Linked DNA regions of Homo sapiens. The protein of the gene in region 2 purifies or fractionates together with the protein of the main gene of each other region. This does not show direct contact. Each region holds a gene or a part of one and is shown on either strand. Other genes may lie near its edges. The genes, in order: MCEE, OGDH and SCFD1.

What was found.
Region 1: the proteins of OGDH (region 2) and MCEE purify together in Homo sapiens (co-immunoprecipitation; one large-scale study listed by IntAct). This does not show direct contact.
Region 3: the proteins of OGDH (region 2) and SCFD1 fractionate together in Homo sapiens (co-fractionation; one large-scale study listed by BioGRID). This does not show direct contact.

Annotation. Positions count from the first base shown.
Region 1 is NC_000002.12:71,128,096-71,131,848, forward strand, and holds the start of MCEE (methylmalonyl-CoA epimerase, mitochondrial precursor), read right to left. Parts: upstream 2,135-3,753; 5' UTR 2,125-2,134; coding exon 2,085-2,124; intron 1-2,084. Other genes in the region: MPHOSPH10 (U3 small nucleolar ribonucleoprotein protein MPP10), read left to right, coding at 2,571-2,659. UniProt on the Homo sapiens protein: Methylmalonyl-CoA epimerase involved in propionyl-CoA metabolism.
Region 2 is NC_000007.14:44,676,127-44,679,779, forward strand, and holds part of OGDH (2-oxoglutarate dehydrogenase complex component E1 isoform 1 precursor), read left to right. Parts: coding exon 1-23; coding exon of another isoform or gene 24-101; exon of another isoform or gene 102-456; intron 457-3,653. UniProt on the Homo sapiens protein: 2-oxoglutarate dehydrogenase (E1o) component of the 2-oxoglutarate dehydrogenase complex (OGDHC). Participates in the first step, rate limiting for the overall conversion of 2-oxoglutarate to succinyl-CoA and CO(2) catalyzed by the whole OGDHC.
Region 3 is NC_000014.9:30,667,197-30,670,849, reverse strand, and holds part of SCFD1 (sec1 family domain-containing protein 1), read right to left. Parts: intron 595-3,653; coding exon 455-594; intron 1-454. UniProt on the Homo sapiens protein: Plays a role in SNARE-pin assembly and Golgi-to-ER retrograde transport via its interaction with COG4. Involved in vesicular transport between the endoplasmic reticulum and the Golgi.

The DNA.
Region 1 (3,753 bases), on a different chromosome or scaffold from region 2:
CAATTTTTTTTATTCATTACAGTAAGTAAACAGATTACATTTCTGTTAGCCCATTTACAGACGATTAATGAAAGTAAACCTATGCAGTCATGTAAGTTGGTCATTCTTGTCTCCCACCTAACAGGTTCAATTTCCATTTTCAGAACTTTTCTACGTGTTCACTCTGATTTTTCTGTGCTTTTGTTTTTCGGCGAAGTTTTATGTTCCTTAAAAGAGGGGCCATAACATAGAATTACCATGTAATCCAGCAATTCCACTTATGAGTATACACACCCCCAAAGAAGCGGGAATTCAGAAGTATTTGTACACCCACGTTCATAGCTGTATTACAATAGCCAAAAGGTGGGGATAACCCAAATGTCTATCAAGAGACGAATGGATAAACAAAATGTGGTATACACACACAATGGAATATTATTCAGTCTTAAAAAGCAATTTTTTTTTTTTTTCTGAGACGGAGTTTCGCTTTGGTTGCCCAGGCTGGAGTGCAGTGGCGCGATCTTGGCTCACGCCAACCTCCGCCTCCCGGGTTCAAGCGATTATCCTGCCTCAGCCTCCCGAGTACCCGGGATAACAGGCGTGTGCTACCACGCCCGGCTAATTTTTGTATTTTTAGTAGAGACGGGCTCACGCCTGTAATCCCAGCACTTTGGGAAGACGAGGTGGGCAGATCACCTGAGGCCAGGAGTTCCAAACCAGCCTGGCCAACATGGTGAAATCTCGTCTCCACTAAAAATGCAAAAAATTAGCCGGGCGTGGTGCCGGGTGCCTGTAATCCCAGCTACTCGGGAGGCTGAGGCGGAAGAATGGCTTGAACCTGGGAGGCAGAGGTTGCAGTGAGCTAACGCCACTGCACTCCAGCCTGGGCGACAGAGTGAGACTCTGTCTCAAAAAAAAAAAAAAAGGTAAATTTTACTTTATGTATATTCAACCACACACACACACACACAAGTGGAGACATTAAGCTTCAAGTATCTTAATAGGACAAATCAAAGGCAATCTTTGGAATACACTGTCTTCATTTTTCCTTTATGCCAAGATGTGTATGTAAGTACAAAACAAACATGCACCTTTATCTGTATTGAGTTCTTGCAGTATGTATATGACCTGTTGGAAGTCATACTTTTTCCCAAACTGTCAATCATTAAAGTGTGCAGTTCTAAAAATAGACATAAAAATGCCTTTTCCCAAATATTCATTTATTTATAGTTTTACGTTCCTATCTTGTGTATCACCTAAGAGGAAGGTATGCCTTACGGTTAAGAATGTGGGCTCTGGTGCTAGAAGGATTTATCACGAATGTCCCGGAGTAACTCTGGGGCATTACCACTTGGCACCTTCTTCCTAATAGGGAATCTCAGATTAAGGGAAATACTTGCCCTCTCATAAAAGGAGGAAGAGAAAAAAAAAAAGGATAAAAAGAGGAGAAAGTGAGTCAGAAAACGTGACAATTATTACAGTTATTTCTGTCATAACTGATTCTATGTACATATTTTAAAAAAAATGAAGGGGGAGAGAACTCAAGAAAGTTTCCAAATCCACATGCTTTTATCTGTGTACGCGATAAATATATTAGTGCACGTGGAAAAACCACTCCTTTTGTATTCTTTACACCACTGACCTTTGAGTGTTCCCAACAGAAAGCTGGTCACGCTTGGAGTTCGGCCGACTAGTAGTTGTTGTTTTTACGGAACGTGCTCTCCTTTCTGGTTTCTCCCCAGTCTCTTTATTGGTGCGCGGTAAAATAACTTACCGATCCGCTTCTATTTACTTCTGTCCCTGCCCTGCCTGACCTGCCGGGCAAGTTCCCTCGACTCTCCCGCCCACATACTGGAAGGTGCAGAGCCCAAGGCGCACAGCTCTCGGATGGAAATGGGACTCATGCACAAGGCAATCCCCGCTACTAAGCGGTGGCGCTTCTGGAAGGCACCCTCTGCCTAAGTGACAGCAGCTGCTGTGGAACGCGCCCCCGGGGGAGGACATTAGATCAAGGTGCTTTGGCCACGCCGAGGCCTCCTCCGCCCCCGACCGCCGTTCCCACGCTCCCTGTCCCATGGCGAAGGTCGCCGGTGCCCGGTATTCACCTACGGCATTCGCGGCTGCAGCCTTCAGCACCCGCGCCATTTTGGAAAGCAACCCGCCACGTCAAGACTAGCCACGGAGGTTGAGAGACGCGCGGCAGAGGGCGGGGCGGGAGGCAGAGGGGGCGGGGACAGAAAGGTCAGGGGCGTGGCGAAGGTCGCTGCTTTCCTGCTACAACGGGCCTACTTTAGCTAAAACAGAAACGTAAGGCCAGGACGGGTCACCCTTTGTGGGCCCCTGAAAAATACAAAACGAAGTTTGGAGAGAGTTGAAAGGCGTTTGGGCTGACCATGGAGATTTTTGTTTCCCACCCTCCTGCGAAAGCGCTCGCGCTGCCATTGGCTCTGGCTGAGGGCGAGTCCGGAACCTGTGCGCCGCGGAACTTTCGGCTCTGAAATCCAAGTTGCGCTGGGCGCATCTTTGCCGCGCGGTTTCCGGGCGGCTCCCTTCCCTTGCATGCTGCATTGTGTCGGGAGTTGCTGACAGCCATGGCGCCGCAGGTCTGGCGTCGACGGACCCTGGAGCGGTGTCTGACGGAAGTCGGCAAAGCCACGGGTCGGCCCGAGTGCTTCCTCACGTAAGTGCGCAGATCCCGGGCTCGGGGTGCGACCGGGGTCTCACGTGGACGCGGGTTGCAGGCCTCCGGCAAATTGTGGAGCTGGGGGAAGGTAAGGGGAAACGTAAAATCGCTTTTCCCCAAATTTCAGAGTTTATGCTTTCCTAGGCTATCAAAATTTTAAAAACTGTTAAAATTTGTATAGATGGATCTCTCAGTTGAGTGTTACTGAAATCACTCTAACCTCAATTGTTAACACCTAGAAGCTTCCCTTGGGCTTCTTACGCCCCCATCCCTCTACACACAGACTGTTGGTTTCTCCTTCCTCCTATGTGCTCTCAAAGCACTTAGCGCTTAGCATACTTTATTGAAAGTACGAACTTGTCACTTGTCTGTCCACCCCCCATGACTAAGCTTCTTCAGAAATAGAACTTCCATGTCTCTTCCCAACACAAGCGTTTTATATGTATTTTGTTGAAGAATTTAAAATGTGATCTATGAAATTATTACTCATTTATGTTTCAAACCCCAACCTTTCCCTGAGTTCCCAGCTCACAGCAACTACAGACTGAGCTTAGTTTGAATTCCGTAGCACACAACTGGGATATCCACACTGTACAACTTTTAACGATTTTTAAAATTTTGGTACTGTCAAGCATCTCAAATTCACTGCGTCCAAAATAGAGCTGTTGTGTCTGTTTAATAGAATTGTTGTTTCTACCCACCTATACTCTGCCATCCCCTGAAGTCCTTTTCCCATGCTACACCTGTCAAGCGCGTCTGTGTGAAGAGACCACTAAAACAGGCTTTGTGTGAGCCACAAGGCTGTTTATTCACTTGGGTGCAAGTGGGCTGAGTCCGAAAAGAGAGTCAACTAATGGTGATGGGGAAGGGGTTGCTTTATAGGAGTTGGGTAGGTAATGGAAAATTACAGTAAAAGGTGGTTATCTATTAGCAGAGGAGGACGGGGTCACAAGGTACATGGTGGGGAGATCATAAGACTTATTGTCCAGAAGAAGAATGTCACAAGGTCGATTGATCAGTTAAGGTAGGGCAGGGACAAGTCACAATGGAGGAATGTTGTAATGTTGATTAATCAATTAAGGCAGGAACTG
Region 2 (3,653 bases):
GTGGCGACACTGAAGGGAAAAAGGTAAGGCCCAGAGAGAGGCGTGCAAGGCAGATCGTCAAGGCCCCATGTTCCAGCATGGAGTTCCGCTCACCAACATAACCCAGAGCCCTGGGTGCATCTAGACTTTAAAAAAATATTTAAAGTCGGCCGGGCGCAGTGTCTCACGCCTGTAATCCCAGCACTTTGGGAGGCCGAGGTGGGCAGATCACCTGAGTTCGGGAGTTGGAGACCAGCCTGACCAACATGGAGAAACTCCATCTCTACTAAAAATACAAAATTAGCTGGGCGTGGTGGCGCGCGCCTGTAATCCCAGCTACTCAGGAGGCTGAGGCAGGAGAATCGCTTGAACCCGGGAGGTGGAGGTTGCAGTGAGCCGAGATTACGCCATTGCACTCCAGCCTGGGCCAACAAGAGCGAAACTCTGTCTCAAAGAAAAAAATAAATAAATAAAAAATATATGTATATGTATGTATGTGTGTGTGTGTGTATATATATATATATATATATATATATTTAAAATCAACTTTTAAAGAATAGCAATAGTAAAACAGTCCTGCTTACAGTGTTCCTTTTCCTGAAGTTGTAATTGTCAGAACTATGTGGGAAGTTTGCTTTTGTCTTCACCAAATCTGTTAAGGAGCCAGGTTGCAGTTATTCTGAATGGACAGAGATGTTTTCACTGAAAAGGAGGGGAGTCTGAGAGTCTCTGTAAGGAAAAAGTGTAGGTGAGCCTGAAGGAGAAATTGTAGAACTGAGACTTGTCAGGAGAGTCATGCTTGCTGTGATTAGAGGCGGGAGTTCACGGGCTGGTAGGAGACGGAGGAGGGCACAGACTGCAGGCAGGTGGGGTCCTGCTTCACCATTTCTGGTCATGTGACTGAGTGTTGGGGGTTGACTCGCCTGCCTGCTTGTGTAGAAATAGTCTCAACAGATTGTAACAATTTGCCCTTATTTAACTTCAAGATAGAATCTTGTCTGACAAATTTTATATTTCCTATTAATGATGACCTAAAAACCAAATAATCAGAAAAAAAATCAAATATTTGTAATGTCTTATGTATGGGTTCTGGGAAACATATAAAGAAGGCATCACCACTTTTCTCTCCAGAGCCTCCTGTTCTTTTTAGAAAAAAGGTCGTGTGTAAAGAAGCAAATAGCACATACACGGCATGATAGGAAACTGGAGTTAGCCGTGAAGAGCTTTGGAAGAGGTGTGCAGGGGTGTGGGCTAGAGTTGGACCAAGGATAGAAGGCACACCCCTTAGTAGCAGAGCAGGTAGTTGTCATTTTATTTGAGAAGTGGCAGGATTTAGGGAGGTGGGAAGGGAAGAATGTTTTCTGGAGATGAAAGGTAAGAGCAAAGATGTAGGGGGAATTGGGGACACAGAGCAGGGAGGGGCCGGCCTCCTAGTTGTGCCCTGGAAAGAAGTCAGGTCTATGTTAGAAGTGGAACCAATTGGCCAGGTGCGGTGGCTCACGCCTGTAATCCCAGCACTTTGGGAGGCTGAGGCGGGTGGATCACCTGAGGTCAGGAGTTCGAGACCATCCTGGCTAACACAGTGAAACCCCATCTCTACTAAAAATACAAAAAAAAAATTAGCCGGGCATGGTGGCACACGCCTGTAGTCTCAGCTACTCAGGAGGCTGAGGCAGGAGAATTGCTTGAACCTGGGAGGCGGAGGTTGCAGTGAGCTGAGATCACGCCACTGCACTCCAGCCTGGGTGACAGAGGGAGACTCCTTCTCAAAGGAAAAAAAAAAAAAAAAGAAGTGGAACCAATTATTACTTTACCAGGCTCTATAATTTTAAATACTGTAAATCTACTACTGTCATGCTTACAGTGTTAGAGGAAGGGAAACTGTCATCATAGGTAATGGAGCCTGGGCTGGGGAAGTGATTCCCGCATCGATCAATGCTCACTGTAAAGAACGAGTATGACCCACAGGGACGCAGAGGTCATTCCATGGCTTCAAGCTCATGGGCCAGGACAGTGCCACAGAAACTTCAACTAGATGCAAAGAGGCCTTAGCTCTGGGGAACCTGCAGCCCCCGCAGGCAGTAACAACACTGGGTGTCTGGGATGGCCTGGGCTAAGGTGAGATCGGCATGGGGAGATCAGCATTGTGATGACCAGTGCCTCTGGTATTTGCACCCTCCTTGGCTAGGACACTCGCCCAGGCATTTGGGCTGAGTAGTGGAATGAGATTACCGAAAACTTTGGGTGATTCCCACATTCATAGATTGTGGACAGAAATCCACTCTAGCAGTACTCACCTCATAATGCTGGAAATTTCCCAAAAAGGAATGAAATCATTAGAGTAAAAGCAATAGAGTATATTTTAAACTGCTACAGATGGTCACACTGATTGGTCCCTTCATGAGATGCCAGGACAGGAGAGGCTGGTTAGTCCCTGATTTGCTCATAAGTCTGCATGCAGCTGAGTCCGAACTGTCAGTCCCTTTGTTTTCCAGTCTACACAAACCTTGTTGTCACAAGTTTGCCCTTGCCCCAATGTGGATAGCTGCCAGGCCCTCTTTCTGAGCCTCCTCGTCACCTTGCCTCAAGCCCTCACATGTCCCCAGCAGGGTCAGTGTGGGGTCATTGCAGGCTCAGCCATCTGCCTGTTCTTCTTACTCCTCTTGACACCCATAGGACATGATTTGATTTCTATTAAATCCAGAAACTCAGGGAGCTGGAGTGTGTGTTATGTAACTCTCAGCATTTTTCGTGAAGAATTACATACTTTCTGTAAGTGCAGCTGAGGTCATCCCATAACCTCATGCATGATTGTGAAACAGACCTGATTTGGCTCAGTGCTAATATGGCCTTTGGGATCTTTGTTCATGAAAGCATTTCCTCAGTGCAGCAATGCAACCTGCTGCAAAGGGAGAACCCGCTCCTGCCAGAGGTATGGCTCAGGCTGCCAGACACAAGGAGATTCCCCATGTGTCCTGGCTGTGATTTCAGCAGACAGTTACCACAGTGCAGTATGGCATGGTAGTCGCAGTACAACATCACCAGGATGATCAAGAGCAAATACCATGACAAGAGGAAGACTGACTACAGGTGCCCTGTCAGCAGAAGACAGACTGGACAGAAAAGTATCTGCGGGAAGAAACAACACACTATCGGGATCAGGAAAGCATGAAATGTCAGTGACTCAAAACCAATGGCTTTTACACTCAGGCAGCCTGGGCATCGTAGCAAAGCTGCACACCTCCAAGGGGGCCCCGTAAGCAAACCAGATCCTTACGTCCACATGCTGCTATCCTAGTGAGCACCTGCCACATCCACCAAAAGGCAGGACACCTGCAGTTCTGTTTTTAAAAATTCTAGGTTTTGTCCCTGACACACAAATCATGGGTCTTAACCAAGGATGACTCAGCACAGCGCTGAGGACCAGGGTAATCACAAGAACTCAGGGAGGTGCAGGTCAGTAGGCCCGTAGGCTGAGGACACAGCAGGAGAGGGTGTGTTGTATATCACCTTGGCTAGCCACAGCGTCCAGGTTTTTTTTGCTAAACACCCATCTAGATGGCATTTTGTAAAGATAAGATTAACGTTTAAACCAGTAGATTTTGAGTAAAGTAGAAGACCTTGCACAATGTGAGTGGGTTTCATCCAGTCAGTTCAAGGCCTTCGAGAAAAAA
Region 3 (3,653 bases), on a different chromosome or scaffold from region 2:
TCATTATTTCTAATGTACTTTGAATAAATTTCTAGGCTTTTAGGCTTAGGTACTCTCTCCACAAGTATCTAAAACAAGGTTTACATGAGGGCAACATGTAACAAAAAGGAAAAAATCACCCCCAAAATCACAAAAGCCAATTTAAATGAAAGGCAGAGATGGTCTTATAGAGTCAGTGGAGACAGCAACAAAATTGAAAAAGACTATCTGTATAGGATGATCTCATTGAAAGGAGAAGCGGTCCCTATAAAACAACAATGAACAAAAAACAACTTAGGAATCAGTGAGAAATGGAGAAATAAAGACAAATATCTACAGACTATCTAATTACAGCCCCCACTCATTGGGTGAACGAACCTACATGACCCTTTTTTTTCTCAAATTCATTAAGGTGGATGACACCTTAATTTCTCTTTAAAAAAATGAATCTTTTACTTATTGATATTTTGCTTACCTTCCTTTATGTTTTTGCCAAAATTTATCAACCGGAGTTAAATCATAAGACTTCTTGTTTTTTCTCTTTGGTCTAGCACCAGCTGGAGAGTTTTCCACTCCTGAAGATTCTTCCAAATTAACCCTGTTTAAATGGAAATCCTAGGAAAAAGTAATCTTGTGTTAAACAACTGTTTTCTAAGTCTAATAAAAATAGAATCTTGTTGCCCTTTCTAATGTTTCCAAGGACAAAATATAGATCTGAAATTTAAAACATCTCCTCCCAATCTTTTGTTACATACAAATGTAATTTTGTTTCTGTATTTTAATGAAAGTATTAGATGTATATTAAAATTTCAAACAAGAAAAAGAGAAAAACATGTCAATATGCTTGTGTATCCTTCTAGAAAAACATTGATGCATATAATAGCACATACACATCCTCTTAATTTTATTTTTTAAAATGGGATTACAGGGTACATGTTATATCTTTTTTCATCTAATAATACATTTTACAGCTCTTTCTGTATCTGTATATGTACATTTACTTCATCTTTATCATAACTACACAGTAGTCCAATGTTTGGCTAAATCAACTTATGCAACCAGGCCTCCTGATGCTTGGTCATTTCCAGTAACAAATGTTATCTTAAATATTTTTAAACTCTTAGAGAGTCAACATTCTGATGTGTCACTTGAGTGATGAACTGCAATTTTAAAAATTACAATAGATGCTATAATAATAAGTGATGCCCCTCTTTCACACAAACTTTAAGAGTCAGGCCAGTAGTGGCTAAACTTTCTTGCCTAGGACTAATTTTATTCACGTGAGGCTTGATTTTTGTACCTTTTCTGTAAAAAAAACCAAAAAACCCCCCAAAACCCAAAACCAAACCAAACCAAACCCACAAAAACCATTAGGCAAAAATAAAAGTAAGTATCTTTTTTCTTTCCCCCAACTTCTTGCATTACATCTATGGGTTCCCTCACAAATAGCAGCATTTTATGGTTTAATGCCAACTAAAGAATAGTGAAAGATAAAACATGACTATCAACAAGTAAATGATTGATGAAGAAGGAAGACACAGTATGGAGAAATTATCCAGCATGACTGAAATATAATTATCTTAGTTCTAAGGTATCTGTATATATTTTGAATTAATGATTATTCTAGGTCTTAGCAAATTAAATATACTGAATGCAATTCAGTCTCCTTTAGATAAAACAAGGTTATCAATACTGACTCTAGGTCCTTAACATAAACCTTGTAACTTTCTCAAATAAATCTTTTATAATAGTTTATTTCCTTGCCATTTTTCTCTTTGACATAAAAAGCAGGATTTGAAAAATTACAGATGTCTACATACCCAGTAATGGGATTGCTGGGTCAAATGGTATTTCTAGTTCTAGATCCTTAAGGAATCACCACACTGTCTTCCACAATGGTTGAACTAGTCTACACTCCCACCAACAGTGTAAAAGCGTTCCTATTTCTCCACAGCCTCTCCAGCACCTGTTGTTTCCTGAATTTTTACTGATCACCATTTTAACTGGTGTGAGATGGTATCTCATTGTGGTTTTCATTTGCATTTCTCTGATGACCAGTGACGATGAGCATTTTTTCATGTGTCTTTTGGCTGCATAAATGTCTTCTTTTGAAAAGTGTCTGTTCATATCCTTCGCTCACTTTTTGATGGGGTTGTTTGATTTTTTTCTTGTAAATTTGTTTACGTTCTTTGTAGATTCTGGTTATTAGCCCTTTGTCAGATGGGTAGATTGTAAAAATTTTCTCCCATTCTGTAGGCCGCCTGTTCACTCCGATGGTAGTTTCTTTTGCTGTGCAGAAGCTCTTTAGTTTAATTAGATCCCATTTGTCTATTTTGGCTTTTGTTGCCATTGCTTTTGGTGTTTTAGTCATGAAGTCCTTGCCCATGCCTATGTCCTGAATGGTATTGCCTAGGTTTTCTTCTAGGGTTTTTATGGTTTTAGGTCTAACATTTAAGTCTTTAATCCATCTTGAATTAATTTTTGTATAAGGTTTAAGGAAGTGATCCAGTTTCAGCTTTCTACATATGGCTAGCCAGTTTTCCCAGCACCATTTATTAAATAGGGAACCCATTCCCCATTTCTTGTTTTTGTCAGGTTTGTCAAAGATCAGATGGTTGCAGATGTGTGGTGTTATTTCTGAGGCCTCTGTTCTGTTCCACTGGTCTATATCTCTGTTTTGGTACCAGTACCATGCTGTTTTCGTTACTGTAGCCTTGTAGTATAGTTTGAAGTCAGGTAGTGTGATGCCTCCAGCTTTGTTCTTTTTGCTTAGGATTGACTTGGCAATGCGGGCTCTTTTTTGGTTCCATATGAACTTTAGTTTTTTTCCAATTCTGTGAAGAAAGTCATTGGTAGCTTGATGGGGATGGCATTGAATCTATAAATTACCTTGGGCAGTATGGCCGTTTTCACGATATTGATTCTTCCTATCCATGAGCATGGAATGTTCTTCCATTTGTTTGTGTCCTCTTTTATTTCGTTGAGCAGTGGTTTGTAGTTCTCCTTGAAGAGGTCCTTCACATCCCTTGTAAGTTGAATTCCTAGGTATTTTATTCTCTTTGTAGCAATTGTGAATGGGAGTTCACTCAGGATTTGGCTCTTTGTCTGTTATTTGCGTATAAGAATGCTTGTGATTTTTGCACATTGATTTTGTATCCTGAGACTTTGCTGAAGTTGCTTATCAGCTTAAGGAGATTCTGGGCTGAGACAATAGGGTTTTCTAAATATACAATCATGTCATCTACCAACAGGGACAATTTGACTTCCTCTTTTCCTAATTGAATACCCTTTATTTCTTTCTCTTGCCTGACTGCCCTGGCCAGAACTTCCAACACTATGTTGAATAAGAGTGGTGAGAGAGGGCATCCCTGTCTTGTGCCAGTTTTCAAAGGGAATGCTTCCAGTTTTTGCCCATTCAGTATGATATTGGCTGTAGGTTTGTCATAAATAGGTCTTATTATTTTGAGATACGTTCCATCAATACCTAATTTATTGAGAGGTTTTAGCATGAAGGGCTGTTGAATTTTGTCGAAGGCCTCTTCTGCATCTATTGAGATAATCATGTGGTTTTTGTCTTTGGTTCTGTTTATATGATGGATTATGTTTATTGATTTGCATATGTTGAACCAGCCTTGCATCCCAGGGATGAAGCCAACTTGTTTGTGGTGGATAAG